Homo sapiens: one gene and its partner. The protein of the gene in region 2 purifies or fractionates together with the protein of the main gene of each other region. This does not show direct contact. Each region holds a gene or a part of one and is shown on either strand. Other genes may lie near its edges.

Region 1 (3,822 bases), on a different chromosome or scaffold from region 2:
AGATTCTATATGATTCCGGGCAAATAGGTTACTTAACATAGTTTTCTTACTTGTAATAATATGGGGTTGTACTTGATCATTTTGAAATACAGATTCATGGGTACCCCACTAGACCTACTGAATCCAAATCTCTGGACAACGAGCCTGGGAATCTGCCTTTGATGCCCTCATCAGCCAGTAAATTTTAGGTACCTTTGAGAACTACTGGATCTAAGATTCTTTCTAACTCTCAAGTTCTATAACTTTATTTCTACTTTTTGTGGTAATTACTACTTAATCTATATCTTTTATTGCTTAATCTGGTAAACATTAGGAACAAACATTTCTTAATTTGTGCATTAAGCAATTACCCAAAATCTTTTCCTTTTAAAAATTTGCAGTGTGGCCTGGGCGAAGTGGCTTACTCTGTAATCCTGGCACTTGGGGAGGCCAAGGCAGGCGGATCACTTGAGGTCAGGATTTCGAGACCAGCCCTGCTGTACAAAAAATACAAAAATTTGGCTGGGAGCTGTGGCTCACACCTATAATCCCAGCACTTTGGGAAGCCAAGGCGGGCTGATAACCTGAGGTCAGGAGTTTGAGACCAGCCTGACTAACGTGGTGAAACCCCGTCTCTACTAAAATACAAAATTAGGCCAGTTGCCATGGCTCACGCTTGTAATCCCAGCACTTTGGGAGGCCAAGGTGGGCTGATCACCTGAAGTCAGGAGTTCGAGACCAACCCGGCCAACGTGGTGAAACCCTGTCTCTACTAAAAATACAAAATTAGCCGGGTGTGGTGGCACATGCCTGTAATCCCAGCTACTCGGGAGGCTGAGGCATCGCTTGAACCTGGGAAGCGGAGGTTGTGGTGAGCCGAGGTTGTGCCTTTGCACTCCAGCCTGGGCAACAAGAGCGAAACTCTGTCAAAAAAAAAAAAAAAAGAAAAAAACAAAATTAGCCACGCGTGGTGGTGCATGCCTGTAATCCTAGCTACTCAGGAAGCTGAGGTAGGAGAATCACTTGAACCTGGGAGGCGGAGGTTGCAGTGAGCCGAGATCGTACCACTGCACTCCAGCCTGGGTGACAGGGCGAGACTCCATCTCAAAAAAAAAAAAATTACTATTTTCAAAAGCACTAATATTGGCTGGGCCTGGTGGCTCATACCTGTAATCCTAGCACTTTGGGAGGCCGAGGCTGGTGGATCAACTGACGTTAGGAGTTTGAGACCAGCCTGGCCAACATGGTGAAACCCCATCTCTACTAAAAATACAAAAATTACCCGGGCGTGGTGGCGGGCGCCTATAATCCCAGCTACTTGGGAGGCTGAGGCAGGAGAATCACTTGAACCCAGTAGGCAGAGGTTGCAGTGAGCCAAGATTGTGCCACTTTACTCCAGCCTTGGCAAAAGAGTGAAACTCCATCTCAAAAAACAAAACAAAACAAAAAAACACTGATATGAAAGATTATATGCATGCCTAGAATCACAATGCCCAACACTGTACCTTAACCCTGCCTTGTGCATCAGTAACGTTTAAAATACATTACCCAAATTATCAAGATATAGTGCAAAATGTGTGCAATCATTCACGTCTTAAATGTGTCGACGGTGGACTTGGTGGAAAAATTATGAGACATGATAAAGTATTGTGCCAGAGGCATTGGCCTAAGAATTTTAGATGGAGTTAGGTATTTGGGACAGTTAGGTATTTGATCCACATCTCTTTCTGGAAGGTTAGATGCAAATGGAGGTTGAGAAATTTCAGTTTCTTTCTTTCTTTCTTTCTCTTTCTTTCTTTCTTTCTTTCTTTCTTTCTTTCTTTCTTTTTCTTTCTTTTCTTTCTTTTCTTTCTTTCTTTCTTTCTTTCGACGGAGTTTTGCTCTTGTTGCCCAGGCTGGAGTTCAATGGCAAGATCTCTGCTCACTGCAACCTTCACCTCCCGGGTACAAGTGATTCTTGTGCCTCAGCCTCCTGAGTAGCTGGGATTACAGGCATGCACTACCACACCCAGCTAATTTTGTATTTGTAGTAGAGACGGGGTTTCTCCATGCTGGTCAGGCTGGTCTCGAACTCCCGACCTCAGGTAATCTGCCTGCCTCAGCCTCCCAGAGTGCTGGGATTACAGACGTGAGCCACCGCACCTGGCCAAGAAATTTCAGTTTCTTAAAACCAGATCTCACTTCCCCTTTCTCCTTCAAGACAGTAGTTTGCCCTTATAATTGGTGTCAAAAATGTACATGATCATGTACTTTCATTCTGCCCCAGTAAGTTTAGTGCAAAATAGGAAAATTTAGAACAAAATGTGTTAATGATAAGTGTGAAGGGATGTATAAATATTTGGCCAGTAATCCAAATTCTTCAGTTTTTTGTTTCATTTAGATGAGGAAATAGTTAAGACTTTCTATTATTATTAATCTGTGTTCAGTCTTTGCTTTTGTAAATAAGAATAGTCTGTGAGCAAATCTATGTAATTGTAGTAGACACACCAGGCTAACCTTTTAGGGCAAGCTTTTTTTTTTGTTTTCATTTGAAAAATTAAGAGAAAAAATATTAATCTTCACACAACCCTAACACTTTTTGTTTTGGTATGTTTTCTTCTAATTAAAAAAAAGATGCTTTTTTTTTTTTTTTTTTTTTTGAGACGGAGTCTCGCTTTGTTGCCCAGGTGGGAGTACAGTGGCGTGATCTCGGCTCACGACAACCTCCACCTCCTGGGTTCAAGCGATTCTCCTGCCTCAGCCGCCCGAGTAGCTGGGACTACAGGTGTGCGCCACCATGTCCGGCTAGTTTTTGTATTTTTAGTAGACACGGAGTTTCACTGTGTTGGCCAGGCTGGTCTCGAACTCCTGACCTCGTGATCTGCCCGCCTCAGCCTCCCAAAGTGCTGGGATTACAGGCGTGAGCCACCACGCCTGGCAAAAAAAAAAAAAAAAGCATGTATTTTTATATGGTTGTGATTTTATAATATCTATTAATTATATCTGTTTTTTTTACATAGAATAATATAGTCATGTATATGTGATCTTAATAACTATCATTTTTTCATAATTGTGTGATATTCCATTGAGTGTATTTGTTATTTACTTAATTCATATTGGGAGATGTTTAGGTTGTTTCCGATTTTCTTCTCTAATAAACAATGCCATATTTAATACTTCTGTGCGTATGTCCTGCTTGTTGTTTGATTTATTTCCAAGTTCTTGTTTTGACCTATCTGTAGCATGAGCCAATTTAATCCTTTTTTTTCATCCTTCAAGTACTTTCTTCATTTGGCTTTTAAGATACTATTCTCTCTTGATTTTTCTCCTACCTCACCAGCAACTTTGATAGTTCCTCCTTATGTCCCTGATGGCTAAATGTTGTGTTTCAGGATTCAGTCTTTAGACCTTTTCTCTGTCTGCACCCACCCTCTTGGTGATCTCATCCAGTTTTATGGCTTTAAATAGCATCTAAAGGCGTACAAGTTTCAAATTTATTTCTATCTCAGACTTCTTTCCTTGAAATTCTGTTGCATGTAGCCAACTGTGTATCTGTCGTATCTACTTGGATGTCTGATATTCATCACAAACTTAACCTGTCCAAAACTGAACTTCTGAAGCTGCTTCACCAGACCTGTTCCTCCTATGTCTTAGCCTATTCAGCAAATGTCAGTTCTATCCTTCCAGTTGTTCAGGCCCCAAATTAGAGATATCTTTGTCTCTTCTCTTTCTTTTTTTCACATTCTTATCCAATCTGATAGCAAAAACTCTTGGCTTTACCTTCAAAATATATCTAGAATCTTATTGCTTCTTACCACCTCCACTGTGCTACTACCTTAATCTAAAAGCCACTATCTTCTCTTA
Region 2 (3,822 bases):
GTTTCCAGTAATTTAGCTATTTTGACCCCAGCCTACTTACCCTCTTCCCTGCCAGCTCTGGGGCTGCTTTCCTCCTGGGGGACCATGCTTTTCTTTGTGGTTACTTACTCCTTCTCCCTCCTTCCATTGTGATGGAACATGCTGCTGAAAGGATTGTTTGTCATTCAGCTATTTAATTTATGGTGAAGTATAGCTGCAGCCTAGATCCTAAAGCCAATATAACAGACCAGTGATGATTGTCAGTAGCACAGTGAATCAGAAACGTGGTACCTTAATGCCATTTGCCACAGCTGGGTTAATAGAGTGAGAGTCTTTATAAGCTCAGCTTTAAGTAAATACAATAGTATTGGCAATAAAATAGTGTTGGCAGTAACAGCCTTAAGGATTTAAAAAAAGAAAAAGTAAGACAATGATAAATTAATCATTGAGGAATGGTCATGAAAAGGACAAAGTGGAAAGATTGTTAAGACACAAAATGGAAAGATTATTAAGACACAAAGATTATTAAGACACTATCCCCCTCATCAGAGAATCACTAATTGTATTTCAAAAGGTGAGATGGTATTTGGCAAGCATGTTGACTTGACGCTGTGAGACTTGTTACCTGTAACTGTTGGTCTGTTGCGTGTGTGTGTGTGTGTGTGTGTGTGTGTGTGTGTAATAAACTCTGAAACCTTAAAATATAGCAGAAATGAGAACACATAAGTTATTGTTATTGTTAGAGTGACAGTTAAATAAGTAGCCAAAATTGGCTAGGTATTGAATAAAACATACAAGTAGACATGGTTAGACCATGAAATGTCATTAAAAAAATCTTACAGTACAAAATAAGGACTTGAAACGTTCTTTTTCATATTCTTAAATGGTTATTTATATTCACATCATGCCAACAAATATTTATGGAATCTCTCCTCTTTGTGCCTACCCTTATTACTAATTATGTGGCAAACAAAGGAATGGTAAAGACTAGTGTTTGTATGCAAAGAACATAATCTCATTTGAGGTGCTGAGACTTAAATGACAATTCATGCTACAGGAGCTAGGAGAAGGGTGGGGAAAGAATGGGCCAGAATGGGATGTGACCTGGGAGGCCAGGGTTTGGATACCTGGGTAGGGAACCATGGGTCGTACAGTGTCATTCTCAAAACTTGGGAGCCTGAGAGCTGAGCACGGTGGCTCACGCCTGTAATCCCAACACTTTGGGAGGCCGAGGTGGGTGGATCACGAAGCCAAGAGTTCGAGACCAGCCTGGCCAACATGGTGAAACCCCATTTCTACTAAGAATACAAAAATTAGCCGGGTGTGGTGGCACATGCCTGTTATCCTAGCTACTCGGGAGGCTGAGGCAGGAGAATTGCTTGAACCTGGGAGGTGGAGGTTGTGAGCCGAGATCATGCCACTGCACTGTAGCCTGGGCGACAGAGCGAGACTCCATCTCGAAAATAAAACAAACAAAAAACCAACTTAGGAGCCTGAGATGAGTATGGCACATAAAAGTGCTATGTATGTGACTGATGATGGTGTTTATACTGGGCACCAGTGGTATGGGGTTGCCTTATTAGAGATGGATTTTGGCAATTGCATATTTGGGGACATTATATGCTGTGTTTTGGGAAAGCAGAGAGTTGTCTGGCAAAGGTAGGGACGTTGAATTCTGACAGAATCCAAAAGATCAAAAACAGACACTATCCCTTAGGCAAGTTACTTATCCTCTACCAGCCTGTTGTTTTCCTCATTTAAAAAGTGGAATAACGACAGTATACCTCATTAGGTTGTTGTAAGGATTAAATAAGATAATTTCCACTGGGCACTTAGAACGCTTGGCACATAGCAGCTCCTAAGTGGTAGCTGTCTTTGATTGATTATTGCAATTTTTATTCTTAAGAATAAACCAGCTGGGTGTGGTGGCTCACACCTATAATCCAAGCAATTTGGGAGGCTGAGGTGGGCGGATCATGAGGTCAAGAGATTGAGACCATCCTGGCCAACATGGTGAAATGCCGTCTCTACTAAAAACACACAAACTAGCTGGGCGTGGTGGCGTGCGCCTGTGGTCCCAGCTACTCAGGAGGCTGAGGCAGGATAATCGCTTGAACCTGGGAGGAGGAGGTTGCTGTGAGCTGAGATCTCGCCACTGCACTCCAGCATGGAGACAGAGTGAGACTTCCTATCAAAAAAAAAAAAAAAAACCATCTGGATTGTATAAAATAGATTGGAGAGGAGAGAGCCTAGACAAGGTTATCAATGAAGAGGCATTTAAAATAACTATCCAATGAGGTGATCAGAAGTTACAATTCCAAAAGAGATTATGAGAGGAGGATCCACAGCGGTTGTGAATCTAGAATGTAAAGGAGAGAAGAGTTCAAGGTGGCCACCAAAGTTCAGATGAAGATGGTTGTGTTTGAAGTGTCATCAAAGTAACTTCCAGTTGACAATGAAAAGCCAAGATGAGGTAGCTTTCTTCACCTACCCCATAGCAGCTCTCTGTAGTTTTTGTGTATATCATAAGAAAAGGAAAATATAAAGCGAACTGTCACCAGTTTCTTGGCACACTCTACAGCCCTCCTGTGTCTTGAGCACTCTTGGGGCGATGCTCATTGTGCCTTAATATTATATATGAAACTCAGTTGACACTGGAAGTAGTAGCTTCATCACTGGTGAGAATGATTTAACATATTGGTTTCCCTTTTGTGTCTTCATTTTGGTAACATACTGAAATAGCAGTATTCATTTTAGTTGGAAAAAATATTGACCAAGTGCTTACAAAATCTGATTAAGTCTAACCAGATGGCCAAGGCTGGTATTTTTTATGTTGCCTTTCGTTTGTCTTTGAAACTTGAATATGCCTAGACTTGACAAAGAAACAGATTCTGGACTGTAGCTATGTAAGATTGTCAAAGATAATGCCTGACAGAACAGCTTATCTTGCTCACTGGTGGCAGAAATGCAGTAAATTGTTTAGAAGACTGCCAAGCTATTAGGATAGATAGCTTGATAGCAAATGATAGACAAAGTGCTACTGACCTGCTCTGAAGGAGATGCTTTTTAAGCTATTCAAAGCTGATATCCAACATCAGTTGGTAATTTGGTTAGAGCTTATTTATCTGAATTAATTTGCATGGAGAGATACAGTGAAAAGAAAGCAGCATCCAAATACGCAGTGGGAGGGAAAAGGAAGAGGAATGTTCTTTTTGTTTGTTTGTTAAACATTCTTATGATTGAGTTAATTGAAGATAATTAAGACACAGAATTCTAATATGCAATGGAATCTCTCCTCCTTCCACTTCTCCCAGCAAAGTGGGCTATAGACATTCATCTGTTTGTTCAGCCAATATTTACTGAGCATTTCTTCTGTGCCAGGCACATTGCCAGGAAGGGGATACAGTGTTGAGGAAAAAGGAAAGGCTCATAGCCTTCAAAATATGGTTGCAGATGGTTATTTAGGTTTAGGAATATTGTTGAACTGACAACAGTCTTCTCGTTTATTCTTGAGCATCATGTAACTCCCATTGTGGGACATTAGAAAAATGGGAGTGACTACATGAACCTATACTGGGCTTTGAAAGATGGAGAAAATCCTGGAATTTGAAGGTCATCTATCAGTTTATCTGAGTTCCAGACGTGTTTTCTGTTATTCTTTTTACAGGCTGTCTTTTTTCCTTTTAACGTATAGTTGTTGCTTTCGATAGTGGGGAGAGGGAACATATGGCCTCAATACACAGACATAGAAAAAGCTTTCATCAATGCCTTTGAAAAGGGGGGAGAAAAGCAAAGGCTTGCGGTTCACCCCCACTCTTTCTGTTGTATTTGAATTTAGAAAGC

Evidence for each region.
Region 1: the proteins of ARMH4 (region 2) and BMPR2 purify together in Homo sapiens (affinity purification with mass spectrometry; one large-scale study listed by BioGRID and IntAct). This does not show direct contact.

The regions. Positions count from the first base shown.
Region 1 is NC_000002.12:202,382,766-202,386,587, forward strand, and holds part of BMPR2 (bone morphogenetic protein receptor type-2 precursor), read left to right. Parts: intron 1-3,822. UniProt on the Homo sapiens protein: On ligand binding, forms a receptor complex consisting of two type II and two type I transmembrane serine/threonine kinases.
Region 2 is NC_000014.9:58,145,684-58,149,505, reverse strand, and holds part of ARMH4 (armadillo-like helical domain-containing protein 4 isoform 1 precursor), read left to right. Parts: intron 1-3,822. UniProt on the Homo sapiens protein: May modulate immune response and may play a role in inflammation. Down-modulates STAT3 signaling throught direct interaction with IL6ST, resulting in the inhibition of phosphorylation of STAT3 at 'Tyr-705'.